Linked DNA regions of Homo sapiens: region 2 is linked to region 1. The links come from fine-mapping of genetic effects on gene expression. A gene starts in region 1. The other region holds a variant in brackets. All regions are shown on one strand. Distances are between the middles of the regions. Region 1 holds the start of HIPK1 (homeodomain interacting protein kinase 1). Region 2 overlaps PTPN22 (protein tyrosine phosphatase non-receptor type 22).

Region 1 (15,772 bases):
TACTCGGAAGCTACTCAGAAGCTACTCGGAAGCTACTCAGGAGGCTGAGGCAGGAGAATCGCTTGAACCCGGGGGGTGGAGATTGTGGTGAGCCGAGATCATGCCACTGCACTCCAGCCTGGGCAACAGAGTGAGACTCTGTCTCAAAAAAAAAAAGACCTCAGGCCTCCCAAAGTGCTGGGATTACAGGCTTGAGCCACCGCGCCCAGCCAGGGTATCTTTTGGAAGTAACACTGAAGACATTTTCTGATGGATGGAATGAGGGAGGTAAGGAAAAGGTATTATCATCTTCATTTTCAGTATGAGGAAAGTGATTCTCGTTAAGATGCCCACCATCATACCCTAATCCCTACCAGAGTCAGGATTCCTATGGATGTCAGGCTCTGAAGCTCCTATTTTTCTATACTGGATATCCTAGGAGCAGTGAGGTTGGTCAGGTAAAAGCCTATTTCACATCAGCGAATTTACCCTCTAGGGTTTGCATAGAGCACATTCCCCTATCCTACCCTGAGTGAAAAGAACCACCTGTTGACTGCTTACAGGTTTCATCAAAGTGAGTTTACAAAAGTAATAATAAAAAAATTAAATTCACAGTCAATGACGATAATTGTTATTTTGAGGTTTCTTCTTTTTTAAATAGAGATGAGGTCTTGTTATGATGCTCAGGCTGGTCTTCAACTCCTGTCTTCAAGCAATCCTCCTACCTCGGCCTCCCAGTCCTGAAGTTCTGGAATTACAGGCGTGAACAATATGAAGTCTCCTTCCCTCCCTGACATCCTTCCTCCCTCCCTTCTTCTCTCTCTCTCTCTTTTTTTTTTTGTTTGTTTTGAGACAGGATCTGGCTCTGTCACTCAGGCTGGAGTACAGTGGCACAAGTCTCAGTCTCTTGTGCTGAAGCAATCCTCCAACCTCAGCCTCCCTCTCAAGTAGCTGGGACCGCAGGTGCACACCACCACACCTGGCTAATTTTTAATTTTTTCTTGTAAAGATGAGGTCTCACTATGTTGCCCACACTGGTCCTTCAGCTCCTGGACTCAAGCGATCCTCCTGCCTCAGCCTCCGAAAATGCTGGGATTACAAGTAGGAGCCATTGTACCCAGTCCTTTTGAAGTTTCTTAACCCCTATTCTATAGTTAACTGATCCTGATGCTTTGAGCACTGCGAATAAGCGCTCAGTAATTTACTCATGAAAACAGTTATAGCACCAACCATGTGTAAGGAATTGTGCTGGGCAGGGGACACTTCATTGGGGCTTTTTGATTTCTGAGTTTGTGGGAAGTACAAAATGACTTAGCACAAATAATATTCAATTATTAAATTTCAAGTTCCTGTTCTGCTCCATTGCCCTTTTCATGTGGGTCTCTGTGTGCCTTCCCAAACCATTTATTTTGGTTTTAGATATTGCTTGAAATTGATGATAGGGAAAGACATATGGAATGCAGATGCTAAATTCTGTGTAACAGTTGGTCAAAGAAAAGGTGAGAATCTTAGAGTGGGGAGGATGATTTTTTAAAAAAAGAAAAGGTTAGAAACTACATAACAGAGGAAGCATAATAATGAGAAATGCTGACCCAAGGAAAGGGAGAAAAAGCACTATTCCTTGCTTTTGCTACATAAACAGTTGGTATATGAGAAAAGTGAGAAAGAGTAAGATCATTATGTGTAGAAAAGGGTGACATTAGAAATGATTATGGAGGAAGGAGGGTCTGAGGAGTCATAAACATGGGTTATATAAGGAGTCAAGGCATTTGTTCTTTCCCCACAATAGTCTCTGGGTTGACCCTTGAAAATTAAGGGTAATTGTGCCTTGTCTCTAAATCCTGAAAACCTCCCTCCCTGCCACCCCACTTTTTTTTTTTTTTTGAGACAGGGTCTTGCTTTGTTGCCCAGGCTGGAGTGTAGTGACAAGATCATAGCTCACTGCAGCCTCAACTTCTAGTGGTCAAGCAATCCTCCCACCTTACCCTCCTGAATAGCTGGGACTACAGGTGTGTGCCACCACGCCTGGCTAATTAAAAAAAGAAAGGTTTATCCTCCAAGACATCTGAATAAAATTGTTATAGAGACGATGACTCACTATGTTGCTTCCTTTTTTTTATTTAGGTAAAATCGACATATTACTAAACATTTTAAAGTGGACAGTTAGTGCATTTAGTGCATTCACAATGCTGTGCAGCCATCAGCATGCTCTAGTTTCACCTCCCCTTTCATTTATTAGGAAAGCTTGTATTCAAATCTTCTTTAATCCCATAATATGCCCATTCATCCAAACTCCTGTTCCATTATTCCATCATTTCTGCTAGGACCCAGTCCCCAAAATGTCCATTATTCTAACCCCTGTCACTCTCATGCTAGATATTGTCCTTCATGAAACCAGATGAGGGGCCAGAACAACTTTTCCTGGTTTATACCTGTGAGAAGAGAAGTGATAGAGAATGTAGTCAAAATGATTCATTTCATAACTTCTCAGATGTAGCTGATGTGGACCCAAGCAGATTCCTTGGATATTGAGAGCTGAATATGGGTATTGACCAGAATAGATTCTACCATTCAGCTGGACCAGGCCATTCTTCCCAGATTGTCAGTCACCACTCATACTATGAGTAATCCTATATAGGAACCACACAGCTTCTGCCCAAACTATGCCACTAAAACCGCTCTCTCGAAGATCAAATACTATCTCTCTCTCTCTCTCTCTCTCTCTCTCTCCCTCTCTCAGAGATGGGAGTAGTGGCTCTCACCAATATCAGTAATATCTATCTATCTATCTATCTATCTATCTATCTATCTATCTATCTATCCATCCATCCATCCATCCATGTATCTAATCTATCTACCTTAGAGATGGGGGTCTCAATATGTTGCCCAGGCTGGATTTGAACTCCTGGGCTCAAGCAATCCTCCTGCCTCAGCCTCCTGAGAAGCTGGGACTATAAGCACATGCCATCATGGACCAGCTAGCAGTGACCTTTCCATAAGCCCCTGAGGTATGGGGATTGTTTGCTACACAAGTTAGCTAAACCTAACTATTCATTTGAATAGGCAACGGACAGTGTCTGCCAAATTTCCCTATGCAAGCTTTCTCTGCTAAGGATACTCAAAAGGAGTCTTAAGAGAAAAATCTTGGTAATACCTAAGGCTTGCAACCTGAGGAAAGGGATGAGCAGGGAGGCTGAAGGGCTGATATTCACATACAAGCATTCAGTAATAAATCACTGTGGGCCTAATGCTCAGATCTTTTTTTTTTGGTCGGGGGGACAGAGTCTTGCTCTGTTGCCCAGGCTGGAGTGCAGTGGCATGATCTTGGCTCACTGAAACCTCCGCCTCCCGGGTTCAAGCAATTCTCTGCCTCAGCCTCCCAAGTAGCTGGGATTACAGGCACCTGCCACCGCGCCTGGCTAATTTTTGTATTTTTAGTAGAGATGGGGTTTCACCATCTTGGCCAGGCTGGTCTTGAGCTCCTGACCTTGCAATCTACCCACCTTGGCCTCCCAAAGTGCTGGGATTACAGGCGTGAGCCACCACGCCCAGCCATGAAGAACATTTTATTACCCCTTACCAGAAAAAGTCCTGTATTCTTCAAAAATATTAAAGACAAAGAAAAGCTGAGGAACTGTGCCAGATTAAAGAACACTAAAGAGACATGACAATTAAATGTAATATATGATCCTAAACTGGATCTTGTGCTGGAAAATAAAAAAAATGCTAAGAATGATGTTATTTGATCAACTGACAACATTTGGAACATGGATGGTAAAGTATTACAGCAATGTTAAATTTCCTGGAGTTGTTAATTGTATGTATTTTGTTTACATAAGAGAATGTACTTATTAGGATATTCAAGTATTATGTGGTAAAGGAGGATGATGCATGCGATTTACTTTTAACTGCTTGGAAAAAAAAATATGTACGTGGGCTGGGCACGGTGGCTCACACCTATAATCTTAGCACTTTGGGAGGCTGAGGTGGGTGGATTGCCTGAGTTCAGGAGTTCAAGACCAGCCTGGGTAACACGGTGAAACCCCGTCTCTACTAAAATACAAAAAAATTAGTCAGGTGTGACAGCGGGCACCTGTAATCCCAGCTACTCGGGAGGCTGAGACAGGAGAATCGCTTAAACCCAGGAGGTGGAGGTTGCAGTGAGCCGAGATCATGCCACTGCACTCCAGCCTAGGTGACAGAGTGAGACTCTGTCTAAAAAAAAAAAAAAAAAAAAAAAAAAAAAAGGCATGTATGTGTGTAATATAACTCTATCTATCTATAACTGCAAATGATAAAGCAAAAGGGGCAAGATGTTAATAATCTGGGTCCTCTTTTTGTCACTCTTGCAACATATCTGTATGTTTAACATTATTTCCAAATAAAAAGTATTCTGGGGTCTGGATTTTTAAAAAATCATTGAGGTTCTCCTCCTGTTGGCTCAAGGGACTTTTCTGCTTTTTATCGTTTACTGCAGACCTTCACTCTAATCTGGTTTTCCCAGTTTCACAACCTGTTGGCTTCTATTTAAATTCTCTTTTTTTTCCTAGCCCCTAGGATTCACTATTTGTTTGAATAGTTTGCCTAGCTTTTTGGTTCAGCTTCTCTCAAGACACAGCCTTCTCATCAGCTTCTCCTATTTGGCCTTAAGCACTGCCGCTCTTGGGCAAATGACTTCTTGCCTGCAACACTGAATCTAGGCTGTAGGCCCTAGAAGGATGTCATACCCTGAATGAAACTTGAATGCTTCCGATTGCTAACTGCTCCACCTCCCTCTCCAGTTGCTCTGACTTGGTTTAGGAGGATGTATTTCACATATCTGCCCCTTCTCGCCTTCTTTCCTGTGTAATCAAACCCTCATCATAGTTTTCTGATTAGGATCCCTTTCTCCAGTCTTTACCCACTCCAGCTAGCCCTCTTCCTTCACCATCACTAGTTCTCTCTCACATTACCTGTCTGAATAAACTTCTTTTTTGAGACAGAGTCTGGCTCTGTTTGCCCAGCCTAGACTGCAGTGGCACGATCTCGGCTCACTGCAACCTCTGCCTCCCGGATTCAAGCGATTCTCCTGCCTCAGCCTCCCGAGTAGCTGGGATTACAAGCATATGCCACCATATCTGGCTAATTTTTGTATTTGTAGTAGAGATGGGGTTTCACTGTGTTGGCCAGGCTGGTCTTGAACTCCTGACCTCCAGTGATCTGCCACCTTGGCTTCCCAAAGTGCTGGGATTACAGGCATGAGCCACTGTGCCTGGCTACCTGTGCGAATAAACTTCTAACAGCTCTACATTGCCTTTCAAAATCTGACTCAATTTACCTTACTACTTCCAAATCGTGCAACTTCTCTGCTTAACTGTAAGCTCCTTCAGGGCACAGACCATGCCTTTTCTTCTGTGTATCCTTAATTTCTTTTTTTTTTATTTCTTTCTTTCTTTCTTTTTTTTTTTTTTGAGACAGAGTCTCACTGTCGCCCAGGCTGGAGTGCAATGGTGCAATCTCGGCTCATGGTAGCCTTCTTCTCCTGGGTTCCAGCGGTTCTTCTGCTTAAGCCTCCAGGGTAGCTGGGATTACAGGCATGCGCCACTACACTTGGCTAATGTTTGTATTTTTAGTAGAGACGGGGTTTCACCATGTTGGCCAGGCTGGTCTCGAACTCCTGACCTCAGGTGATTCACCTGCCTCAGCCTCCCGAAGTGCTGGGATTACAGGCATGAGCCACCACACCCAGCCCCTTAATTTCTTATATAGTGCCTAGCACACAGAAGATGCTCTATAAATAGTTACTGAATGGACAAATGACTAAACTTTGAAACTTCTTTGACCTTACTATGCTCAAATATCACTTCTGATGTTCTTCTCCGACTCTCTCACTTATCTTATATATGTCTGCACACGTTTTTTCCTCATTAGACTGTAAGGTCCCTGAGGGAAAAGACCATGCTTTATTCACCTGTCTCATTCATACCTGACCCAGTGTCTAGAAGAGTGTATAGCACAGAGCAGGCACACAAGCAGTTTGCTGGATGAATGAGTGAATGATACTAAAGAGGAGAAAATACAGACTTTAAGAAGCTCTCCGTATAGTGAGAAAGACTGAGGACCTAAGAGCAATGAAAATAGAAGTTAACAAGTATAAATAAAGAAGGTACAGGTTAATTTAAGTAATCAGATGATGATGCAGAATTCAAATAAAATAGGAGTCAATCAGCAAAGGTTCCCGAAAGGGTGAATTCTGAGAGATATTTGAAAAGAGGAAAGGGACATAACTTGAGAGAGCAGGAGTTTAGGAACATGTCAGAGAGTTAGGTTGAACCAAGGCATGATAAACATGTTTGAAGCTTACATTCTGAGCAGGATCTGTTCTACCCAGACCACAGGTTTCTGCCTTTTTTTCTGGCTCATCAAGCAGGCATGTTTACCCACTCTTTTTATCTTCATGTTTCCCAGGTCAGCCCAATGTGAGGACTTTAAGTAGTAGAAGGAAGTTTCTGTGAAAATATGCAAACAAAACTGCCTTGTGGGATCGAACATTTTTGGTAACCCTAGTTCTCTAGGGAAATAAACTTCCCTGTTCCAGATAAAATGGAACTGCTCCCCGTGTTGTTAAGCCAGAGAGAAAGCCAAATGACTTCCCTTAAAAGGTACTTCAGCGCATTTTACACAAATCATAGTTTTCTGTGTGTGTTATGGGGATCCAAGGAAATCAAAGATGTTAATGAGTGAGATTTGAGAAACAAAACTTGATAGTAGAATTTTGTCTTAGCCACAACTGCCCTTCTCCTCACAGAGTATATGCAAATACCGATGGTGACGGACAGTCACTTTCTAGAGCTCAGATCACTGCTGCCTCCAGCACTTGTGGGATGGAAAAAATGAAGAAATTACAGTTGCCCTAAAAATGTCCCCCACTTCAGGAACCTGAATATTTTACACAGCAGGAGATACATCGGAAGTCCTACAGAATCTCTTGACTTTGGGAGATGCAACTGCTTTTCTATTAGGATAACCTAATTTTCTGTGTCCATTTTCTCAGAATGTTGTGCCCAACGCGTTCTGTTTCCTAAATACCCAGCCTTCCTTCTGGTAGAGGCAAGAAAATTATGCTAGCATTCGCTCACTGCATGTTTTGAGCGTTTGAGTTCAGAGTACAGCTATTCTCTCTCCTCGTAATGTAAACACAGGTTCCCACGGCGGCAATGGGAGACTCCCCTAAGGGGCTCTTGACGTACAGGGAGACTTCCAGATATGGTACACAGATGTCACATTGCTAGAACGTCTCTAGACGGCAACGAAACATTAAAGCCTAACCTGAGGTAATCCCTCACCGGCAGTGAAGCTCCTCTGCTAGGCACTGTCGTCCCGTACACTGCCCAAGCTCTGGGGGTGTCACACTAAACTGTGGTGATGTCACACTAGCTGGGATGACATTTTACAGTTGGATCCCGTACCACCGCCAGGCACCTTTAAATCACCGCAGAGTCTGCAGTGCGGAGGGGGCGGGAAGTCCAGGCCCCGCACTCGATCCACGCTGGCTCCCTACGGAGGCCCACCTACTCGAGGCCCACCGACTCCTACTGCAATCAGTACTATGCGATCGTCCTAGAGAGTCCATTCAGCTGCACTTCCGCCTCAGTAGGTGTCATGGCGCGGGGCGGGTGAATAGTTCCGGCGAGGCGGGGCCGGCCGGGTTGAGGGACGGCCGCTCGGCATTCCGTTCGTCGGGTCTGGCGACAACGGCGGCTGCGGAGCAAGGGGCCCGGCGGTAGCCCCGGACGGCAGCAGGAGGCCGAGGCGGGAGCGCGCGGGGCTGAGGCGGCGGCGGCGGCGGCGGGAAGGGGCTGGGTGGTGGAGCGGGAGGGAGGCTGAGGAGGCTCCCCCTGCGGGACGGGCGCGGGGACGGCTCCGGGGGGCGGGGGCCGGGGCCCGGGCCGGCTCGCGCGGGGGGTATGATGACCCGGCTGCGGGGCCCCAGATCTCGTCTCCTCCGCCGCCTCCTCACGGCAGCCCCAGCTCGCGGCTGAGAACCAGACACACCGGCGGTGAGTGGGGACGGGCAGGAGGGGTCCTCGGCGGGGAGCGACTTCCCCTCAGCTCCCTGAGGCGGGGCCGGGCCGGCCGCCGGCTCTCCTGGAGCGCCCAGCCTGCCGGGGGCGCCTTCCTCAAAGGGCCCCTGCCTGGGACCGGGCGCCGCGTCTTGCGGCCCGGCCGCTCACTGCCGCTGAGGGGATTGCCTTCCCAGGAAGGTGGGGAGGCTCCGGGCTGGTTTTCGGGGCAACTCCCCCTGCCTCCTGCCACTTCTCGCCTGGGCGTGTTGTCCTTAAGTGACAGGGGACCGCCTTGCGTCTCCTCACTCGGCCGGTTTTTTCCCCGGCTGTCGTGGCAGGTTCCCAGTGTGTGGCTTGTGCGTGTGTACTTCACAGCTCCGCTTATCACCATGGTTTTGGGTTATTTGTGCTGTTTGGGACCAGGAAGCCGTGCCTGGAGAGGACGACAGTGGGGTGGGTGTGGAAGCTTTTCTGTCGTCTCCGCTGATGTTCTGTAGTCGTTAGGCTTGTAATTCGTAATGACGGTGGAGACTACGTGAGACCAGCCCACCTAATGTATATCTGTACAAGGGAGATCTAGAGGTCTGGCCCAAAGGGAAACTTTTGCTGCCACCACTTTCAAAGCTTTCGTTAAAAAAACAAAAGGGAGGGGGAAGGTGGAGAAACAACCAAAATTCTGGTAAGGCCCACACTGTTCACAGGTCTGTGGGGAAGAGTCCCCTTTTTGTGCTTAGCAACCAAGACGTGGAGTTCCGTCTCCAGGAGCGTTGGTCTAACCTCCAGTTTGTTGTGGTGACGAGCTGTGAGCAATGGCCTGTGTTTATGCTGGGCGAGCTTTCTTTCCTACTTGGGGAGGGGGGTTCAGGATGGGAGGATGCGGGTAGGGAAGAGGGGGGGAAAACCCCCAAGCTCCAGTAAGTCTTTTCTTTACTTAATCACTGATTCTGTTGTAGGTAGACTCATTTAGAGGCAGTCCTAGATGCTCTTTCTTGTCTATTAGTGACACTTTGGGAATTCTCAGTAATTGCATCAACATAATACTTTCAGCTATAGACTCTCTGTCCCAATCTGTCCTTTATCTTGTTTCTTAGTAACTGGTGAAAACAGCAGTGTGGCTTCCCGCTCTTGATGAAATAGGGTTAAATTAAGTGGCTGATGCCCTCAGCAAACCTACAATTTTCCTTTTGTTTGTGTAAAGCTATTTTTGATCTCTGGTCTGTGGGTTTTTTTTTTTTTTTTGTAAGATTATAGAGAATGCAAACTATTACTAGCTTTTTTCATATGGAAGCCTAAAGCTTTCTATAAAACATTTTAAAATCTAACAAATCATTTGACCTAATTTTCATTATTCAGCTGGTGATTTTGGATCTTTACATGTAATTATCTCAGGGTTCTGTGTTATAATACTGTTATGATGAAGGGTGGCATTGACTTTAAGATACTGTTCCTGGCTTGAAAGATATTTTAGTAAAGTACTTGCGGTTGGAACTGGAGGCAGCCAAGCCAGTAAAGTATCTTAGAATAAAATGGTGAATGAGATCTTATAAATATACTGGCTCTGGTTGGCAAGTAGAACTTTTGCTGGTGATACCTTCATGAATAGTTTATCTCTCGACACTGTAGTTTTGTGGTTTTTTGAGCAAGTTCGTTGGTAACTTGAGACTTCAAACCAAACCAGAACTTCCTTCTAAAAGAAAAAAAAAGAAGAGATAATCTCAAAGTTCACAATTCTTTGGAAAATAAACTTCTTTCATTCTGTGCTTTTGTTTTTATAAGCACAGCTCCATCAATGATTTGTTGGTACAAATCAGTGAGTCATACCGGCCTTGTAAAGTTCTTACACTTGGAACTTGTGCAGCTTGTTAGTTATATATTGTAACTGGTCTTGTAATTTGAAGTAATTTTGCAAACATGAGCTGCTTGATCTGCCACCTGCATGAGTGTATAACAGCAGTCTGTATTTTTTAGGTCTTTTTAAAAAAAATTTACTATTATTCCTCCCGTTATCTTCCCTTCCTCTCCCTTTGTGCCATTCTGAACACAAGTCATCAAGATTATTTTCCTTTAAGTACCACTTCAACAATCACTGGTTTGTCTTTTGGTTCCTTTTGTTTTTGTTCCTGATCTTCCCTTTAGTTGTTGGAACCCAGCTCCTAAATGCCTAATATATTCCTGTAGTGCATAATTTGGCACTTGAAAAATTTACATCCTGTTTTCATATTTTTCTTTCTTTTTCATGTGTTATATCATTTCAGCAACATTTTAAGTTTTTTGAAGGTAAGGAAACTTACATTTCTTTTAGATTCTTTAAGGGTACCTGGTACAGTGCTTTCCCAGAGTGCTTAAGGAAAAAGAATGAGAAGACCTTTGCCAGCATTGCTACTCATTAGCGCTGGGTAAAACTCGTTTGGCCTTTTTGGATCTGTTTTTTTTTTTTTTTTTTTTTATTTGAGACAAGATCTCGCCCTGTCGCCCAGGTCGGAGTGCCGTGGTGGGTTCAGGCTGGAGTGCAGTGGTGGGTTCAAGTGATTCTCATACCTCTGCCTCCTAAGTAGCTAGGACTACAGGCACTACAGGCACGCACCACCATGCCTGGCTAATATTTGTATTTTTAGTAGAGATAGGGTTTTGCCATGTTGGCCAGGCTGGTCTCAGACTCCTGACCTCAAGTGATCCACCTGCCTCGGCCTCCCAAAGTGCTGAGATTACAGGCGTGAGCCACCATGCCTGGCCTGGATCGCCTTTTTCTCATCTCGGAATTAGGGGGTTTTAGAATCTTTAAGGTCCCTTTTATCTGTAAGAGTTCCAGTACTTTTTTGCTAGTGTCTTCTGCTCCAGTTAAATATATCTCCTTACTCTACACGGTTTTTTATTTTTCCACATCCTTTGGCATACTAGCATAGCAAAAGTCATCTCATTCTTCTGAAAGAGCCTCCTCCATCTTCCATTCTCCAAACTGCTGTTGCCTTACTTAAGTCCCGTTTTCCTTCAGCCTTTGCTGGCATATTGTTTATGTTTCATATTGATCTCTGCTTTGTTAATTTTAACTTTTTCTTATCCTGGAAACTCCTCAAGGTATAGTTTTCTTAATTCTAAGCTTTATAGACCTATAGACTGTTATGTGCAGGTACTAAAATGTAGTACCTTTTTACTAAACACAAAGCACTTACTTTTCTTTTGTTCTGTTGCCGTAGTCATTCCAAATAAATCTAAGTGAACTATTGATTTTGATACAAAGCAACAGCCTCTGCCACACTGAAGAAGTGAGCTTTAAGCAGAGACTAGAAGGGTAAGTAAAAGTTAGGAAAAGAAAAGCCTAAGGGGGAAAATGAAGTTCAGAGAGGAAACATGTTGAAGGAACTAGGGCCAGAGAAGGCAAGGTCTATTGTGGGAACCCAGAGAGACTTGGTAGTATTGGAAGAGAAAGTGCCTGGGGAAAAGCGCAGATGAAACAAGGCTGTGCAAGTAATCGTGGTCCAGATCTTGCAAGGCCTGGTAATCCAAATTAGGAATTTTGGTGTTTGTCCTAAGGTTTTAAGTGGGGGATAGGTACACTTTTTTTTTTTCAGATGTGCATTTTTAAAAGCTTCAGTTGAGAGGTGAATAATGAATTGGGAGAGGGGAGCTTAGAAAAGGGGCTTGAGGCCAGCATCGTGGCTCACACCTGTAATCCCAGCACTTTTGGAGGCTGAGGTAGGTGGATCACTTTAGGAGTCTGAGACCAGCCTGAGCAACATGGTGAAACCCTGTCTCTACAAAAAATACAAAAAAATTAGCTGGGCGTGGTGGCATGTACTGGTAGTCCCAGTTACTCGGGAGGCTGAGGTAGGAGGGTGGATTGAGCCCTGGAGGTCCAGGCTGCAGTGAACGAACCATGATCGTGTACTGCACTCCGGTCTGGGTGACAGAGTCTCAAATAAAGGGGGGAAGTTGAGAGTACAATTTGGAGGAAACCAGTTAAGCTGTTTAAGTATGGGATTGTGCAGTAGGGGTGGAGAAAACTTAGGAGAGTAGAGAGAGATTTAGGTGTTCTGTTGGGAAGAATTTTCTTCCCAAACTTGTCTCACTTTGTTTTTACAGAAGATGTACTCTTATCATCTGTAAAAAATATGTATCAGAGTATGTGATAGACAATATGTATACCTGTGTTCATGTCATCTGAGGATAAGTGCTGGAGCAAGAAATCAATATATAGTACAGTTTTTAGGTCATTTGGCTAACCAGCTGTTAAATTGTATGAAAGAGGCAAAGATAACATTGAGCAAAAGCAACAGGAATTTATTACTGGTGTGTCAGGAAAAAGGTTACTGAGGGGTAAGGACAAATCAATGGAAAATGATTACCTGGGTTGTCTTATCCAACTGTTCCATTCAGGGTTATAATATTTGGATCCTTTTAATAAGATTATTTGCCTATAGTGCTTATAGTGTGGAGCACCCAGTAAATAATGTTAAATGGATGTGACCATGCCAGGGAGTGGGAAAGTTGTTAATCTGTTTTTGAAAGCCTTGGATTCTAGCTATTATCTTTTAGCAATAAGTACAAGTACCAATGATCTTTTGCCCATCATTGCTACTTTGGTATTAATGAACTGGGCAAATTTGTCATTATATTGAGATGGTTAAGTCCTTGGAAAGTCAGATTTGAAATGTAAAGACTTCATTTATTGCTGGAGTCAAGAGGCGCAGCATTTTCAGGAAGTCAAAAATAACTTTTTATGCCAGGTACGGTGGCTCATGCCTGTAATCTCAATATCGTGGGAGGCCAAGGCAGGAGGAGGATTGCTTTAGAGCAGGAGTTTGACACCAGCCTGGGTGACATAGTAAGACCTCATCTCTGAAAAAAAAAAAAAAAAAAAAAAAAAATTAGCCAACTGTGGCATGTGCCTGTAGAAATTAGCCAAGCGTCCTGGTGTGTGCCTGTAGTCCTAGCTACTTGGATGGCTGAAGCAGAGGATTGCTTGAGCCCAGGATTTCGAGGATACAGTGAGCTGTGATCACACCACTGCATTTCAGCCTCACTGACAGTGGTGAGAACCTGTCTCAAAAAAAAAAAAAAAAAAAGAATCAGCTGTTTTTTTTTTTTAAACCTTTATTTTAGGTTCAGGGGTACATGTGCTGGTTTGTTATATAGGTAATCTATATGTCACAGGGGTTTGGTGTACAGATATTTTGTCGTCCAGGTAATAAGCATAGTGCCTGACATTTATTTTTTCTGATCCTCTCCCTTCTCCCACCCTCCACCCTGAAGTAGGCCCCAGTGTCTGTGGTTGGCCTCTTTGTGTCCATGTGTTCTCGTTCTTTAGCTCCCACTTTTAAGTGAGAACATGCAGTACTTGGTTTTCTGTTCTGTGTTTGTTTAGGATAGTGGCCCTCCAGCTTCATCCATGTTGCCTGTTGCTGCAAAGGACATGGTCTTGTTCTTTTTTATGGCTGCATAGTATTCCATGGTGTATATGTATCACATTTTCTTTAGTCTACCATTGATGGGCATTTAGGTTGAATTTCATGTCTTTCCTATTGTGAATAGTGCTGCAGTGAACATATGCTTGTGTCTTTGTGGTAGAATGATTTATATTCCTTTGGGTATTTACCCAGTGATGGGATTGCTGGATCTAATGGTAATTCTGTTTTAAATTCTTTGAGGAATTGCCACATTGCTTTTCACAATGGGTGAACTAATTTATACTCCCATCAGCAGTATAAGTGTTCCCTTTTCTTCACAACCTTGCCAGCATCTGTTATTTTTTGACTTCTTAATAATATTCATTCTGACTGGTGTGAGATGGTATCTCATTTTAGTTTTGATTTGCATTTCTCTAATGATTAGTGATGTTGAGCAATTTTTCATATGCTTGTTGACTGCAAGTGTGTCAAAAATAGCTTTTTAATTTATTGAGTTGCTATTCACATTGAATTGAAAATATCTGTAATTTGCCTCACAGATTCTGATATATAGTAAGTTTTCCACAGATGTTAATTCTGTTTTTGTTGTTGTTGTTGTTTGAAAGCTCTCCACCTAGGAAGAGAATTGCCTCCCCACTTGCAAAGGCAAGTTTAATAGAACATAATATCTTTATCCTGTGTCTAGAAATTGCTGTTTTAGCTGAGTTTCAGAGTAGAATATAAATAAGAGTCTGTTGGTTTTTCTAGGCCATTGTGATTCTGTATTTTCTTCTCACCTTGTGTTAATTGAGGTCAGAATGAGTCTCAGCCACACTGTAAGAACCCCGGTGGTCTGATACTGACTTTTTGTACATCACACCCTTGCTGTGGGGAAGACCAGTGAAAGAATTCTGAGTTGTCCTTTCCCCTTGGGTGAACTAAATTTGTCTTTATGGATAAGAACTATAATCATTTAATATTAAAACATTCTGAAAAATATCCTAGAACTTGTACTTTTTTCAGTGCCCAGTGTGAAGATCTGAAATCATAAGTAATCTTTTATTATGTTTTTTGGGTAAAAAGTTGGCAATAATGTTACTCTGCCAAATGCAAAATTTTATAGAGTATCTAGTTACGAATCCTTTTTTTTTTTGAGATGGAGTCTCACTCTGTCGCCCAGGCTGGAATGCAATGGCATGATCTCAGCTCACTACAACCTCTGCCTCCCGGATTCAAGTGATTCTCCTGCCTCAGCCTCCTGAGTAGCTGGGATTACAAGTGCGTGTCACCACGCCCAGCTAATTTTTGTATCTTTAGTAGAGATGGCGTTTTACCATGTTGGTCAGGTTGGTCTCGAACTCCTGACCTCATGATCTGCCTGCCTTGGCCTCCCAAAATGAATACATTTTTAAAAATTTGGTATTTCATGAATTCTTTTCAGTATTACTTTATGACCCCCCTATTCCTAGACAGTTGCTACAAACTGCAAATTTTCTATTTAGATTCTTTCACTAAATACTTCAAGTTACATAAAAGTTGTGTTTATGTTTTTTGATAGATTGTTAAAATTAGGTGAACAATATTAACATTGTTAATGGAAAACAAATTTAGAAAATTTGCTTCCTTTTGTTGTTCAACAGGTTGGCTTAATTTTATGATAAATACTTACACATATATTTTAATAGGTGCATTTTGTAAAGGAGGTACTTGGTTTCAGATTTTTCTTTTATTATATTTGGTATTTCAGTGAAGTAGGTAGAACAAGATGATTTGTAAATTCAGCCTCACAGTTAAATTGTACTGACCTTAGCTTTTAATTTGTACTTTTTTTTCTCTTCAAAGTTTATATAAATTATGGAAACTCTTAAAGTAAATCTCAACTGAGTTTTAGAAATTGAAGGCAGAGGATTTGTTCTTTCCAGCTGACTAGTCCAGTGCAGGTGGTTTCTAGTTGTATTCAGGCACAAAGAAATGTACTTACTGCCTTTTGATGTTCTGTAACATCCTTTGTCATGTTTCCTTCCTTTCTTGTTGTGTTTATTCTTTTATGATTAGTAATGTTATACTGTATGGATTGGAGTAGAGACTTCCCCCATGACTCAAGGACCACACAGATAAAAAGGAGGGAAGACATTAAAAAAAAAAAATCAAGGATCGAGCATTTGAAAATACTACAGTTGAATGTGAGTGGTAGGGAGTTGTATTTAATAGATATGAGATTGGTAGGCAGGGGTCAAATAATTCATCCAACAGATAATTGAGTATGTATATATTGTCAGTCTGTATAAGGCTTTGGTGATAGAAGAGCAAGACAGAGATGGTACATGTGCCGGAGCTTATACTGTAGCTGGGAATGTAGCATTA
Region 2 (15,772 bases), 82 kb before region 1:
AAATTGGAAAAAAAGGAAGTAAAATTATCTCTAGTCTCAGATGACATGATTTTATATATGGGATTCCACAAAAAATCTGCTAGAGCTAATAAACAAATTCAAAGTTGCAGGATGTAAAATGAACACATAAAACGAGTTGCATTTCTATACATTAGCAATGAACAATCTGAAAAGAACATTAAGGAAACAGTTATATTTATAATGGCATCAAAAAGAATAAAATACTTAGGAATAGATTTAACCAAGGAGGCAAAAGACTTGTATACTGAAAACTACAAAGCTTTGCTGAAAGAAATTAAATAAGATATAAATAAATAGACATTCAAAGTGATCTACAAGTGCAATGCAATTCTTATCAAAAACCCAATGGCATTTTTACATAATTTGTTTAAAAAACAGACTAAAATTCATGGAATTTCAAGGGGCACTGAACAGTCAAAACAATCTTGAAAAAGAAGAGCAAAGTTGAATGACACACTACCTGATTTCAAAAATTGCAACAGAGCTACAGTAATTAAAACAGTGTGGTACTGACATAGTATAGACTAAAGACCAATGGAATAGAAGAGCTTTGAAAAAAACATTTACATATGGTGGGCAATTGATTTTTGACAAAAGTGCCAAGAAAATTCAATGGAGAAAGGAGAGTGTTTTCAATAAATGATTCTGGGAAAAACTGAATATACACATGCAAAAGAATGAAGTTGAGGCTGGGTGCGGTGGCTCATGCCTGTAATCCCAGCACTTTGGGAGGCTGAGGCGGGTGGATCACCTGAGGTCAGGAGTTTGAGACCAGCCTGACCAACATGGAGAAACCCCGTCTCTACTAAAAATACAAAATTAGCCAGGCATGGTGGCGCATGCCTGTAATCCCAGCTACTCAAGAGGCTGAGGCCGGAGAATCACTTGAACCAGGGAGGTGGAGGTTCCAGTGAGCCAAGATCACGCCATTGCACTCCACCCTGGGCAGCAAGAACGAAACTCCATCTCAAAGGAAAAAAAAAAAGAGAGAGAATGAAGTTGGACCCTTATCTTATGATACAGAAATTAACTCAAAAATTGATCAAATACCTAAACATAAGAAGTAAAATGTAAAACTCTTATAAGAAAATGGGCAAGCTTCATGACATTGGATTTGGCAACGATTTCTTGGATAGGACACCAAAGGCACAAACAACAAAAGAATAATAGGAAAATTGGACTTCATTGAGATTAAGACTTTTACACACCAAAGGACACAAAGGCAAAAAGGCAACCCATTGACTGAATGGAAGACGGTATTTGCAAATCACATATCTGATAAGGGATCAATATCCAGAATACATAGAGAACTCCTAAAACTCAACAACATGTAAACAACTCTTTTTTTTTTTTTTTTGGTGGAGGGGGACAGAGTCTTACTCTGTCACCCAGGCTAGAGTGCAGTGGTGCGATCTCGGCTCACTGCAGCCTCTGCCTCCTGGGGTCCAGCAATTCTCCTGCATTAGCCTCCCAAGTACCTGGGATTACAGGCACACGCCACCACACCCGGCTAATTTTTGTCTTTGTAGGAGAGACGGGATTTCACCATGTTGGCCAGGCTGATCTCAAACTCCTGACCTCAAGTGATCTGCCCGCCTCGGCCTCCCAAAGTGCTGGGATTACAGGCGTGAGCCACCGCATACAGCCTCAATTAAAAAATGAGCAAAATCTGGGCACCATGGCTCATGCTTTTAGTCTCAGCTACTGGGGAGTTTGAGATGGGAGGACTCCTTGAGGCCAGGAGTTCAAGACTAGCCTGGGCAACATAATGAGACCCTGTCTCTAAAAAAAAAATTAAAAAAAAATTAGCTTGGTGTGGTAGTGCATACCTATAGTTTCAGCTACTCAGGAGCTGAGGTGGGAGGATCACTTAAGGCCCAAGAGTTTGAGGCTTCAGTGAGCCATGATGGTGCCACTGGACTCCAGCCTGAATGACAGAGCAAGACCCTGACTAAAAAAAAAGTAGGGGTGGGTGGGAGAAGGCAAAGGACTTGAAGAGACATTTTTCCAAAGAGGATATACAAATGGCCAATAAGACCACAGAAAGGTGTCTAATCATTAGGAAAATATAAATCAAAATCACAATGAGATACCACTTCACACCTAATTAGGATGGCTGCCATCAAAAAAACAAAATAGGCCAGGCGTGGTGGCTCACGCCTGTAATCCCAGCACTTTGGGAGGCCGAGGCCGGCGGATCACGAAGTCAAGAGATTGAGACCATCCTGGCTAACATGGTGAAACCCCATCTCTACTAAAAATACAAAAATTATCTGGGCGTGGTGGCATGTGCCTGTAATCCCAGCTACTTGGGAGGCTGAGGCAGGAGAATCGCTTGAACCCGGGAGGCAGAGGTTGCATTGAGCCAAGATTGCGCCACTGCACTCCAGCCTGGCAACAGAGCGAGACTGTGCTCAAAAGACAAACAAATAAACAAAAAACAGAAAATAAAAAGTGTTGGCCAGGATGTAGAGAAATTGGAATCCTTGTGTACTGTTGGTGGGAATGTAAAATGGCACAGCTGCTATGGAAAAGAGTATGGCTGTTCTAAAAGAAAACTAAACGGCCGGGCGCGGTGGCTCACGCCTGTAATCCCAGCACTTTGGGAGGCCGAGGCGGGCGGATCACGAGGTCAGGAGATCGAGACCATCCCGGCTAAAACGGTGAAACCCCGTCTCTACTAAAACTACAAAAAATAGCCGGGCGTAGTGGCGGGCGCCTGTAGTCCTAGCTACTTGGGAGGCTGAGGCAGGAGAATGGCGTGAACCCGGGAGGCGGAGCTTGCAGTGAGCCGAGATCCCGCCACTGCACTCCAGCCTGGGCGACAGAGCGAGACTCCGTCTCAAAAAAAAAAAAAAAGAAAACTAAACATAGAATTACCACATGTAATTCCACTTCTGGGTTATACCCAAAGTAATTAAAAGCAGGGATACAAATATATATTTGTATACCCATGGTCATCACAGCATTACAGCAGCCAAAAAGTGGAAGGAACTCAAGTATCCATTGATGGATGAATGGATAAACAAAATGTGTGTGTGTGTGTGTGTGTGGTGTGTGTGTGTATAAACATATACAATGGAATATTATTCAGCCTTAATGAGTAAGAAAATTGTGACACGTTACAACATGGATGAACCTTGAGGACATTACGCTAAGTGAAATAAGCCAGACACAAAAGGACAAATACTATATGATTCCACCCATATCAGGTACCTACAGTAGTCAAATTCATAGAGACAGAAAGTAGAAGGATGGTTGCCAGGGGCCAGTGGGAGGGGAGAATAGGGAGTTATTGTTTAATGGATACAGAGGGTCTGTTTAGAATAATGAAAGTTCCAGAAATAGTGATAGTCACTCAACATTGTGAATATACTTAATGACACTACATTGTACACTTAAAAATGGCTAAAATAGTAAATTAAAATGATATATTATACCACAATAAAAATATTAATTGGAAAGTATCTCTTCCTTTTCTATTTCCTAGTATAGACTGTATAAAATTGGTGTTAATTCTTCCTTAACCATTTGATAGAATTCTCTAGTGAAACTATGTGGGCCTGAGATTTCTTTTTTGGGAGTTTTAAAATTACAAATTCAATTTTTCTAATCACTAAGGGGCTACTCAAATTATCTATGTCATGCTGAGTAAATTGTGGTAGATTGTGTTTGAGAAAATAATCCATTCTGGGCCGGGTGTGGTGACTCACGCCTGTAATCCTAGCACTTTGGGGGGCCAAGGCAGGAAAATCCCTTGAGCCCAGGAGTTCAAGACCAGCCTGGACAACATAGCTCCTATTTCATTCCTGATATTGGTAATTTTCATTTTCTCCCTTTTTATCTGTGTCAGTTTTTAAAAAGGTTTGTCAATTTCATTGATCTTGTTAAAGAACGATTTTTTTTTATCTTTTAAAAAAACCAGGCTGGATGCCTTGGCTCACGCCTGTAATCCCAGCACTTTGGGAGGCCGAGGCAAGCAGATAGTCAGGAGTTCAAGACCAGCCTGGCCAACATGGCAAAACCCCATCTCTACAAAAATAGAAAAATTAGCTGGCCATGGTGGCACATACCTGTAGTCCCAGCTATTTGGGAGGCTAAGGCAGGAGAATCGCTTGAACCTGGGAGGTGGAAGTTGCAGTGAGCCAAGATCATGCCACTGCACTCCAGCCTGGGTGATAGAGTGAAACTCTGTCTCAAAAAAACAAAAACAAACAAAAAACCAATTCTGATTTTTCTCTATTATTGTTTCCAATTTCATTGATTTCTGCTCTTTATTTCTTTTTCTATATTCTTGGAGTGACAGCTTAGATTATTGAGACCTATACTGTTTTCTAATGGATGCACTTAGTGCTATAAAGTTCCCTCTCAGTACTGCTATTGCTTCTGTCTCATAAATTTTGGTATGTTGTATTTTCATTTTTGTTTAATTCAGTGTGTTTCTTTATTTCCTTTGAGACTTTCTCTTTGACCCAATAGATTATTTAGAAAAGTGTGGTTTGATTTCCAAGGATTTGGATACTTTTCCGTTACCTTTCTGTTACTGATTTTTTTCTTTTTTTAATTAGTTAATTAATTTTTGAGACAGGGTCTTGCTCTGTCACCCAGGTTGGAGTGCAGTGGCACAATCACAGTTGACTGCAGCCTTGACCTCCCAGGCTCAAGCAATCCTCCCACCTCAGCCCCCTGAGTAGCTGGGACTACAGGCACATGCCATCACACCTGGCTGAGTTTTTAATTTTTGTAGAGACGGGGGTCCCCCTGTGTTACCCAGGATCATTTTGAACTCCTGGCCTCAAGGAATCCTCCCACCTTGGCCTCTCAAAGTGCTAGGATTACAGGCAAGAGCCACCATGCCCGGTCTCTGTTACTGATTTCTAATTTGATTCTATTGTGGTTAGAAAATATATTCTGTATAATTTTGGTTGTTTTGTTTTTGTTTTTGTTTTTTTTTTTTTTGAGACAGAGTCTCGCTTTGTTGGCCAGGCTGGAGTGCAGTGATGCTATCTCAGCTCACTGCAACCTCCGCCTACCAGGTTCGGGTTCAAGTGATTCTCCTTCCTCAGCCTCCCACGTAACTGGGATTACAGGTGCCCACCACCACACCTGGCTAATTTTTGTATATTTAGTAGAGATGGGGTTTGGCCAGGCTGACCAGGCTGGTCTCAAATTCCTGACCTCATGTGATCCGTCTGTCTTGGCCTCCCAAAGTGCTGGGATTACAGGTGTGAGCCACTGCTCCCAGGCTAATTTCAATTTAAAAAAATTTTTCAAATTTTTCAGATTTTTATGGCTCAGGATATACTCTATCTTGATATATATTTTCCATAAGCACTTTAAAAGAATGTGTATTCTTATTAGGTAGAGTGTTCTGTAAGTGTCAACTAGATTTTGTCAGTTAGTGGTGTTGAGTTCACCTATATCCTTGCTGGTTTTCTGTCTAGTTCTATCAAAATTGTTGAAAGAAGAATATTGAAGTCTCTGGCTATGACTGTGAATCATCTGTTTCTCTCCTTTAAGTTCTATGAGTTTTTCTTCACATATTTTGCAATTTCATTGTTTGGTCTATATACATTTAGGACTATTATGTCTTACTGGCAGATTGACCCTTTTATCATTATCTCCCTATCTCTGATAATTGTCTTTGCTCTGAAGTCTACTTTATCTGATATTAACATAGCCACTCCTGCTTTCCTTTGATTCATGTTTACTGATATAACTTTTTTCCATTCCTTTGTTTTTAGCCCTCTTATATATTTGAAGTGAGTTTCTCATAGACAACATATAGTTGAATTGTTTTTTAATTCTCTATGCCAGTCTGGCAATTCACTCTACCACCAGTAAATATTGGTGTATTTAGGCTTATATGTTTAATGTAATTATTAATATGGTCAAGTTTCATTCTGCTATTTTATTTTTTGTTTTCTCTTTATTCTTTCTGTTTCTCATTGCTCTTTTCTTTTTCCTGATGCTTTCTCTTTCCTGCATTTTTTAGAATTCCATTTTGATTTACCTATAGTGTGTTTTATTATATCTCTTTGTATAGCCTTTTTTTAGTCATGGCTCTAGATATAGATACAGATATATGGTATCACACTCTACTGGTGTTATCATTTTACCAGTTCAAGTGTGGAAGCCTTACCTTCCTTTATGTTTCTTACCATCCTCCTGTTATAATCATTTAAAATATTTCCTTTAATACATTTAGAACAACATCAGTCAGTGTTATATTTTTGCTTCAATTGTAAAACATAATTTATAAAACTCAAGAGGAGAAGGAAAGTTTATTATATTTACCCACTTTTGTTTATTATGTTCTTTCTTCCTTCTTTCATCATTCCCTTTCGGTTTAGAAAGTTTCCTTTGCCATTTTTTTAGGGTAGGTCTACTGGTAACAGATTATCTTAGTTTTTCTTCATCTGAGAATGTCTTGATTTCCCCTTCAGCCCTGAAGGATGTTTTCACTGGGTGTAAAACTCTGGATTGACAGTTATTTTCTTTCAGCACTTGGAAAATATTGTGCCACTTCCTTCTGACCTCTATGATTCCTAATGCAAAATCTGCTGTCATTCTAATTGTTTTCCTCCTACAGTTAAGGTGTCATCTTTTTCTGGCTGATTTCTAAAACTTTTTTGTCGTTTTTTGTTTTCAGAAATTTAATTATGATGTATCTTCCAGTACTTTTTCAGCCCTGCCCTTTCTATTTTCTTTCTGGATTTTGATGACCCAATGCTAGATTTTTTTTTTTTTTTTTTTTGGTCCCTTAGTTCCCTGCAGCTCTGTTTATTTTTTTTTCAGTCTATTTTATCACTGTTGCTCAGACTGGGCAATTTCTATTGTTCTACTTTTCAATTCATTAATTCTTTTTTCCGTACCCTCTATTCTGCTGTTGAACCCATCTATTTTGCTTCAGTTACTGTATTTTTAAGTTCTAAAATTTCCATTTGGTTCTCTTTATATCTTGTTTCTTTGCTGAGACTCTTTTTTTTTTTTTTTTGATGAGGCTTTGTATTTTTTAATTTGATTTAAGCATGTTTTTACCTTTTTTATTTTTTTATATTTTCATTCTTTTTATTGTTTTGTTGTTGTTGTTTTAACTATGTTTTTAATTGCTCATTGAAGCATTTTTATCTTGGCTGCTTTAAAATCCTTGTCAGATAATTCTGACATCTGTATCATCTCGGTGTTGTCACCTATTGTCCTTATTTAAATTCAGTTTGAGATCTTCCTGGTTCTTGGTATAATAAGTGATTTTCAACTGAAATCTGGGTATTTTCACATTGTTATGAGACTCTGAATCTTAGTTAAGCCTTCTCTTTTTGCTGGGGCTTTTTTTTTTTTTTAACAGAGTGTTGCTCTGTCACCTAGGCTGGAGTGCAGTGGTGCAATCTCAGATCACTGCAACCTCCGCCTCCTGGGTTCAAATGATTCTCATGCCTCAGCCTCCTGAGTAGCTGGGATTACAGGTGCGCATCACCATGCCCAGTTAATTTTTGTATTTTTAGTAGAGATGGGGTTTCACCATGTTGGCCAGGCTGGTCTTGAACTCCTGATCCCAGGTCAAGACCAGCCTGGTCAATATGGCAAAACCCCACCTTGGCCTCCCAAAGTGCTGGGATTACAGGAGTGAACCACTGCACCCGGCCATTTGGAAAAATTTTTTTGTAGAGACAATTGCTATGTTGCTGAGGCTGCTCTCAAACTCCTAGGCTTGAACAATCCTTCCACCTTGGCCTTCCAAAGTGCTGGGATTACAGGCATGAACCACCTTGCCCAGCCAAGAGATTATTTTTAAATTTTTATTTCTCTTTGAGACAGGGTCTCACTTTGTTGCCCAGGCTGGAGTGCTGTGGTGCCATTTCAGCTCACTGCGACCTCCACCTCCCAGGTTCAAGCAATCCTCCTGCCTCAGCCTCTGGAGTAGCTGGGACTACAGGTATGCCCCACCACTCCTGGCTAAATTTTTTTTTTTTTGGAGATGGGGTTCACCATGTTGGCCAGGCTGGTCTTGAACTCCTGACCTCAGGTGATCTGCCTGCCTCGAGCTCCCAAAATGCTGGGATTACAGGTGTGAGCCACCGGACTTAGTGAGATTAATTTTTTAAGTTAAATTACATCAAATTAATTTGTCATTTTCCACAGGAAATTTTCAGTGCAGCCCTATGCACACCTGACGCTCTCAATTTAGTTGTGACAATAGATAAATCCTGCAACAAATCTGACATCCCTTGACCAAAAGCAAGTATGAAAATTTTTTTGACATAATATCTAGTTTAAATTTTACCTCTGTTCCAGAATGTTTATCTCTGATAACATCCATCTGTCTCTTAAATAGTTCTAATACAGCATTGTAGACCAGTTCATATTGTTCCTGAAGAGCATCACAACCCAGAACAAATGAAAACAAAAACAAAAAAATTGGTGAACGACAGGACCAGATTTTAGGAATATGAACACCAATCAAATCCTAATATAGCAGACCCAAAAGGACGATCGGCATGTTATTAAACTTACTAACAATGCCTTATGCTTACGTAGTTCACTTCAGATTTCAAAGCACTTTTATGCTGCTGAAAATAGCTAAATATTTGATACACCTCTAACTAATGTACAGGAATCTTATGACTTGTTTCTTTTATGTTCTAAACCTAGTTTCTTATCTTTCTCTCCACCATCATTTCTCTAATTCTGTTTCCCTTGCTCACATTAAAAAAAAAAATATTTCATTCTAGATGGATTTTTTGTAAGCAACCTTCATCTTTTCTGGAAAAAGAGATAGTGGTTGGTATATAGATAGATAACTTCAATGTCTATGCTTTAATTTGGTCCTCACAATTGCTCTATAAAGTAGATAAGCTATTTATACCTATTTACAAACAGTTTATCCCAGGTCATTCAGAAGGAATTTCCAGGGCTTGGCTTAGAAACTTAATTTCCACACTCTTAGTTCAGTGCATTTAGATAAAGTTGCTAAAATTTTGTCCTAATAAAGATACCAAAAAAAAGTAAACCACTAAATAAGGTTTTGAAATTTGTGGTTACAAAAGGATTTCACCATAGAGAAATGAGACCTCTATTATTACAAGGTTTATGAGTTATTACTACTCTGTTTTTGCCTGTACTTTCTCAAGCACTTAATTTTGAACCTACTTTTTATCTGAAAGGGCCTAATCAGGGTTTTACCTGAAAGGGCCTATTCAGGGTTTTCCCTGACACTTTACACATTTCTGTACAAATAAAGAACAATTTTTTTTCAAAGATAATTTTAGCAGGAAACAATGCAGAGTCTATATCATTCAACACAGCCATTAGTATGCTCTTTATTTATTTATTTATTT[ATT/A]TTTTTTTTTGAGACACGGTCTCACCGTGTTGCCCAGGCTGGAGTGCAGTGATGCAATCTCGGCTTACTGCAGCCTCGACCTCCCAGGCTCAAGTGATGCTCCCACCTCAGTCTCCCAAGTAAGTCGGGACTGCAGGCACCTGCCACTACACCCTGATAATTTTTGTATTTTTTGTAGAGACAGGGTCTCACTATGTTGCCCAGGCTGGTTTTGAACTCCTGAGCTCAAGTGATCCACCTGCCTCAGCCTCCCAAAGTGCGGAGATTATAGGGGTGAGCCACCACATCTGGCTAATTTCTTTAAGAAAGAAAAATCAGGGCTGGGCATGGTGGCTCACGCCTGTAATCCCAGCACTTTGGGAGGCCGAGGCAGGCAGATCACGAAATCAGGAGTTCAAGACCAGCCTGGCCAGCATGGTGAAACCCCATCTCCACTAAAAATACAAAAAAAATTAGCTGGGCATGGTGATGCGTGCCTGGAGTCCCACCTACTCGGGAGGCTGAGGCAGAAGACTTGCTTGAACCCGGCAGGCAGAAGTTGCAGTGAGCCAAGATCGCACCATTGCACTCCAGCCTGAGTGACAGTGTGAAACTCCATCTCAAAAGAAGGAAGGAAGGAAGGAAGGAAGGAAGGAAGGAAGGAAGGAAGGAAGGAAGGAAGGAAGGAAGGAAGGAAGGAAAGAAAGGAAGAAAAAGAAAAATCAGACAGGAAGCTCTCATCTGGTTACAGTGCCATTTCCTGGTTACAGTAGTGTCAGAAAAAACAGCTACAACTGTCAAGTTCAGTTAGTTGTTTGATAATGCCAAAATGTGAAGGCTTTTTCAGCGTCTTCCAACTCTTAAAAGTAGGCCTGAAATGAAATTCGTTTTTGAAATGGGGTATAGTTTTATTAAATTAGTATTGCTATTTATATAACTAGGTTCCATACTTCTGGAATCTTTATGCATTTACATGGATCAGCCTTCTTTCAAGTCTGACAGCATTAAACCAGCTAATGCTTTCATTTCACATAAGCTTTCTCCCTCACAGGTTGAATATAGAAAACACCTACACTCAGCACACATGAAAGTTATTTTTTTCCACCAGCTATTAGTGGAAAATCTGTGCAGGCCAAACAGTTTTATATTATAATAGCTCTTTATTTTATCCCTTTAATTCACAACTTCTAGACTAAATATCTGAATTGCCATTGTCAGTTGTTTTATCTCTAAAACTATTTGCATCTTCATTTGTAAGTGTTTTAAACACTTTAAGGTCTTGCTATTTAAGTAGTTAAAAGTAGTTCTAACAAATTACACAAAAGTGCCTGTTAATAAACATCAATACACGTTTCATGAATGAATGGGTCAATTCTAAATTCTATATTAAAAATGGAGACCACTTAGAAAACTAAAACTATTGGGTAAAACTATTCGTGTAGAAATATGGGTGAAATTAATATTGTAGGCAGTGAGAGATTTGGGCTAGGAGAAGGGAAGAGCATTCCTAATGGAGTGAACAAGTATGGGTATTCTGGGGTAGGTTAAAAGATTGTGATACATAAATAGAGTGTGATTGTAATTTTTTTTTTTTTTGAGACAGAGTCTCACTCTGTTACCCAGGCTGGAGTGCAGTCGTGTGATCTCGGCCCTCTGCAACCTCCACCTCGCAGGCTCAAGCAATTCTCCCGCCTCAGCCTCCCAAGTAGCTGGGATTAGCAGGTGCCTGCCACCATATCCAGCTAATTTTTTTATTTTTAGTAGAGACAGGGTTTCAGCATATTGGTCAGGCTGGTCTCAAACTCCTGACCTCAGGTGATCCACCCACCTTGGCCTCCCAAAGTGCTGGGATTACAGGTGTCAGCCACCGCGCCCGGCCCAATTATGTTTTTTCTTTTTTAAGTATGCATGCAATAAGAATCAGGAGAAACTATAGAAAAATAGTAATAGTGGCTATCTGTAGGTAATAGGAATATGGTTTTTATTTTTATTTTTCAGTGTTTCCTAAAACGAGCACATAGACTGAATTCTCCATATTCTGTTACCACATCCTGGGTAGAAATTACAAATCCCTGATTTTCTATGCTTTCAGAGATGAATTTTATCACTACAAAATTTCAAATTAACATGACCTAGCTATTTCAAGTCCACAAGTCAGTTTGTTGAATACTTTTACAACATCCTTTGTAAGGAAGTAAGTAATATTACATTGGTATCTTAATATTTTCTGAACAGACAGTAAAATAAGGAATGAAAGGAATTTGACCCAGGACAAGGGATACAGGAAAAATATTGGGATATTCAGAGTTAGAGAAAATGGCAATGGACTCTAGAGCACGTAATGGTAAATTGGTGTTATATCTGAGCAGTCAGCTGTTTTTGGATGCCTCACCATTAAACAGATGGAGCAAGACTCAGACACATGTTCTGATCCATTCACTATAGTTCATACCTGCGTTTGAACTAATGAAGGCCTCTGTGTCCGCATTTCCCGGATCAAACTGAAAACACTGAAGTTCTCAGGAATTATCTATCAAATTAAAGGGGAAAATATTCCTTTCAATATTTTGTTAATAAATTATTGCTACTTTTTCATAGTCTTGTACTTCCATGGCATCTGCTCTTCTAACATGGGGTAATATCAGAAAAATGATGCATTTTTAAAACAAATGAGGTTTCTTATCACTTGCAACATGATTTAGAGCCTGGTATTTTCCCTAGAAAAGACTAAAGAAACTCTTCAGAATGATTTCACACGGTATAACCAAATGTCTAAAACTATAGATATAACGAGGGACAGGATTCAGTAGATGCACAAGTATGAGAGTTGCATAAAATAAAAGAGGTTGGTAGGTAGGTCTAAAGGCCATATTTTAAACTTCCCATTTCCTATTAGACATTAAAAAATGATTTATAGATTGGAACGCAAAGTATGATTGCAGTAAGTTGAGTCCATCTATTAAAGCATCTTTGGATAAAGGAAGGGTAACTATATAATTTAGGACAGTGGTCCTCAAACTTCATCATGCATCACAATCACCTGGACAGCTTGCTGGGCCCCCATCTCTAGAGACATGATTCAATTCAATGGGGTGGGGCCCAGTAATTTGCCTTCACCTTAGGTTAGGTGCACCTAACCCCCTTGGGGTTCAACCCCTACACTATTGGAATCTCCAAAGATTGGAAAACAAACATTAAAGGACATATAAATTACAGACTTCCTGGGAGTCTGACAAAGTAGAAATAGAAATATTTGACCTATTTTCAGTATTTCACAAGAACTAACAGAAATCATATGTCTACTAAAACAGCTGCACAAGCTAAGTGAAATATCTAGTTTCCTTGGGTTTTGATTTTTGCTTTTTGTTTTGTTTTGTTTTTGAAACGGACTTTCACTCTTGCTGCCCAGGCTGGAGTGCAACAGCGCGATCTCGGCTCACTGCAGCCTCTGTCTCCCGGGTTCAAGCGATTCTCCTGCCTCAGCCTCCTGAGTAGCTGGGATAACAGGCATGTGCCACCAGGCCCGGCTAATTTTGTATTTTTAGTTGAGACAGGGTTTCTCCATGTTGGTCAGGCTGGTCTTGAACTCCCGACCTCAGGTGATCTGCCCACCTCAGCCTCCCAAAGTGCTGAGATTACAGGCATGAGCCACTGCAACCAGCCAAGTTTGCTTGGTTTTGATTAGAATTGTCAACTCAGAATGGCAACAGTAGAACAGTGATATCCAGTAAAATATAATGTGAGCCACATATGTGATTTTAAATTTTCTTTTTCTTTCTTTTTTTTTTTTTTTTTTGAGGACTTTCACTTTTGTTGCCCAAGCTGGAGTACAATGGCATGATCTTGGCTCACTGCAACCTCCACCTCCCAGGTTCAAGTGATTCTCCTGTCTCAGCCTCCCGAGTAGCTGGTATTACAGGCATGCGCCACCACACCTGGCTAATTTTGTATTTTTAGTAGAGACAGGGTTTCACCATGTTGGTCAGGCTGGTCTCGAACTCCCAACTTTAGGTGATCAGCCTGCCTCGGCCTCCCAAAGTGCTGGGATTACCGTGTGAGCCACCATGCCCGGCCAAAAATTTCTTTCTTTTCCTTTATGTATTTTATTTTTATTTTTATTTTTTTGAGACGGAGTCTCTCTCTGTCACCCAGGCTGGAGTACAGTGGCTCAATCTCAGCTCACTGCAACCTCCGCCTCCCGGGTTCAAGCAATTCTCCTGCCTCAGCCTCCTGAGTAGCTGGGATTACAGGCACATGCCACCATGCCTGGCTAATTTTTTTTTGCTTTTTTTTTTTTTTTTTTTTTTTTGAGACAGAGTCTCGCTCTGTCACCTAAGCTGGAGTGCAGTGGCGCGATCTTGGCTCACTGCAAGCTCCACCTCCTCAGTTCAAGCCATTCTCCCGCCTCAGCCTCCTGAGTAGTGGGGACTACAGGCGTCCACCACCATGCCCGGCTAATTTTTTTGTATTTTTAGTAGAGACAGGGTTTCACCATGTTAGCCAAGATGGTCTCGATCTCCTGACCTCGTGATCCACCTCCCTCGGCCTCCCAAAGTGCTGGGATTACAGGCGTGAGCCACTGTGCCCGGCCTAAATTTTCAAATAGACACATTCAAAACCGAAAAGAGGTGAAATTAATTTTAATAACATATCTTAGCCCAATATATATTGCATTTCTAACAAGTTCTCAGGTGATGCTGATGCTTCTTGTCTGGGGACCACCCTTTAAGACCCACCTACCTGGGAACTAATTTAATCGTCTGACAGAGTGGGTCTACAAGTACATTTTCTAGAAAAGATGAATCATGAAGATAGATGTTTTGAAAAACCAAACAATTACTAAGTATGAAAGCAGTAGACTAAGCAAATGGGAAGTGCCTGCTGAGAGAAACTCACCCCATCTTTTAGCAACATCCATGTATAATCAATAGCACAAATAACACCAGTCCTTCCACAGCCAGCACTGAAATGAAAGATCACAGTAGCATGTATGCATGTATACCTAGAGAGAATGGACCATTGACAGTAGCTGGAAAATTTCACCAGCAGATTTGAGGAAGAAGATACCTGGGGACAATTAAACTTTCCAAACCCCACCATTTCCCAGAGCCCATTTGTCATGCAAGAGGTCCTAGGCAACATCTCAGAGCAAGAGTCTCTAGAACTGTACTACTCACAAGTAACTTATCAGAAAAACATGAATTTAATGCTTAGGTTGAATTTATTATCGTTTGTTTTTGCTATTAACCTTTTCCCCTTTCAATTACACAGTCCTGGCCAGACTCTGACATTTGGTTCATTTTGGGTAGAAGGTTTATATATAGTGTCATACCTGCAGTGAATGCATATGGGAACACTGTCATCCTCTTGGTAACAACGTACATCCCAGATGAGCTCAAGAATAGGGTCTATAGATGAAGGTACATCATGGTCTGGCCAATTCTTGTAATGAAACTGGTAGATAGTTCGAGTTTCCTATAAAAAGTAGCCAGATGGGAGGGGAAGAGGGGCAAGGGCTGAAAAACCACCTATTGGGTATTATGCTCACTACCTGGGTGATGGGATTATTCAGTGGCATGCATGCAACAAACCTGCACATTTACGCCCTTGTGTCTTATATTCATAAGATTAAAGTTGAGGCTGGGTGTGGTGGCTTACGCCTGTAATCCTAGCACTTTGGGAGGCCGAAGCAGGCAGATTACTTGAGGTCAGGAGTTCAAGACCAACCTGGCCAACATGGGGAAACCCTGTCTCTACTAAAAATACAAAAGTTAGCCAGGCAAGGTGGTGAGCACCTGTAGTCCCAGCTACTGGGGAGGCCACGGCACAAGAGTTGCTTGGACCCAGGAGGCTCAGGTTGCAGTAAGCCAAGATTGCACCACTGCACACTCCACACTCCAGACTGGGTGACAGAGCGAGACTCTGTCTCAAAAAAAAAAAAAAAAAAAAAAAAGTTGAAATTATTTTAAAAATAGCCAGGATAATAAGACAACTTGTGGTTAGAACTCCACCTCATTATACCAAGACAACAGTCCGGCATACTAAGTTGTATCTATATCCTTTTTGAAATTTATTCCGGTTTCTTCTCTATAGATCTCAGGTGACCAGATGCTTTCTGAAAACCATTAAAAGTGATTTCAGGTCACTTACTATTGGTTTGTCCCCATCTGCCCCATTCACAAGAGGAAATAGCTAGATATGAAAATAGTTCAAACCAGTGTTTCCCAACTGGTATGCCTCCAATGTGTCACAATCATGCTGATATATTAAATCTTTTTGCCTTAGAGAAGCTGGGCAGGGCCTAGGGCAGCCTAAGCTCTCAAACTGGTCCCCAGTCTCTATGCACTGTTCAGCTTCTGTTCACCCTACAAATATTATCATTTTATATGTGTGCCATGGTATAGAATAGATTGAAGACATATTATAACAATG

The links. PIP is the estimated chance that this variant, and not a neighbour inherited with it, causes the effect. A credible set is the group of variants that fine-mapping cannot tell apart.
Region 2: its variant is the best candidate, but not a certain one, in a credible set for the expression of HIPK1 in whole blood (INTERVAL, PIP 0.89).

The regions. Positions count from the first base shown.
Region 1 is chr1:113,921,922-113,937,693 of GRCh38, forward strand. HIPK1 (homeodomain interacting protein kinase 1) reads left to right here and starts at 7,403. Exons shown (of 16, transcript NM_198268.3): 1 at 7,403-7,611. It overlaps HIPK1-AS1 (HIPK1 antisense RNA 1), which reads right to left and starts at 7,604. Exons shown (of 3, transcript NR_110726.1): 1 at 7,441-7,604; 2 at 6,323-6,467; 3 at 2,080-2,411. RefSeq lists an enhancer at 7,314-7,633 and silencers at 7,754-7,803, 7,824-8,133.
Region 2 is chr1:113,840,235-113,856,006 of GRCh38, forward strand. PTPN22 (protein tyrosine phosphatase non-receptor type 22) reads right to left here. Exons shown (of 21, transcript NM_015967.8): 8 at 14,673-14,815; 9 at 14,237-14,303; 10 at 11,793-11,870; 11 at 8,306-8,392. The region is part of intron 3 of AP4B1-AS1 (AP4B1 antisense RNA 1); the gene reads left to right. Among named protein-coding and RNA genes, the nearest start is that of PTPN22, 24 kb to the right of the region's middle. The variant ATT/A (reference allele first, on the strand shown) is at 9,360.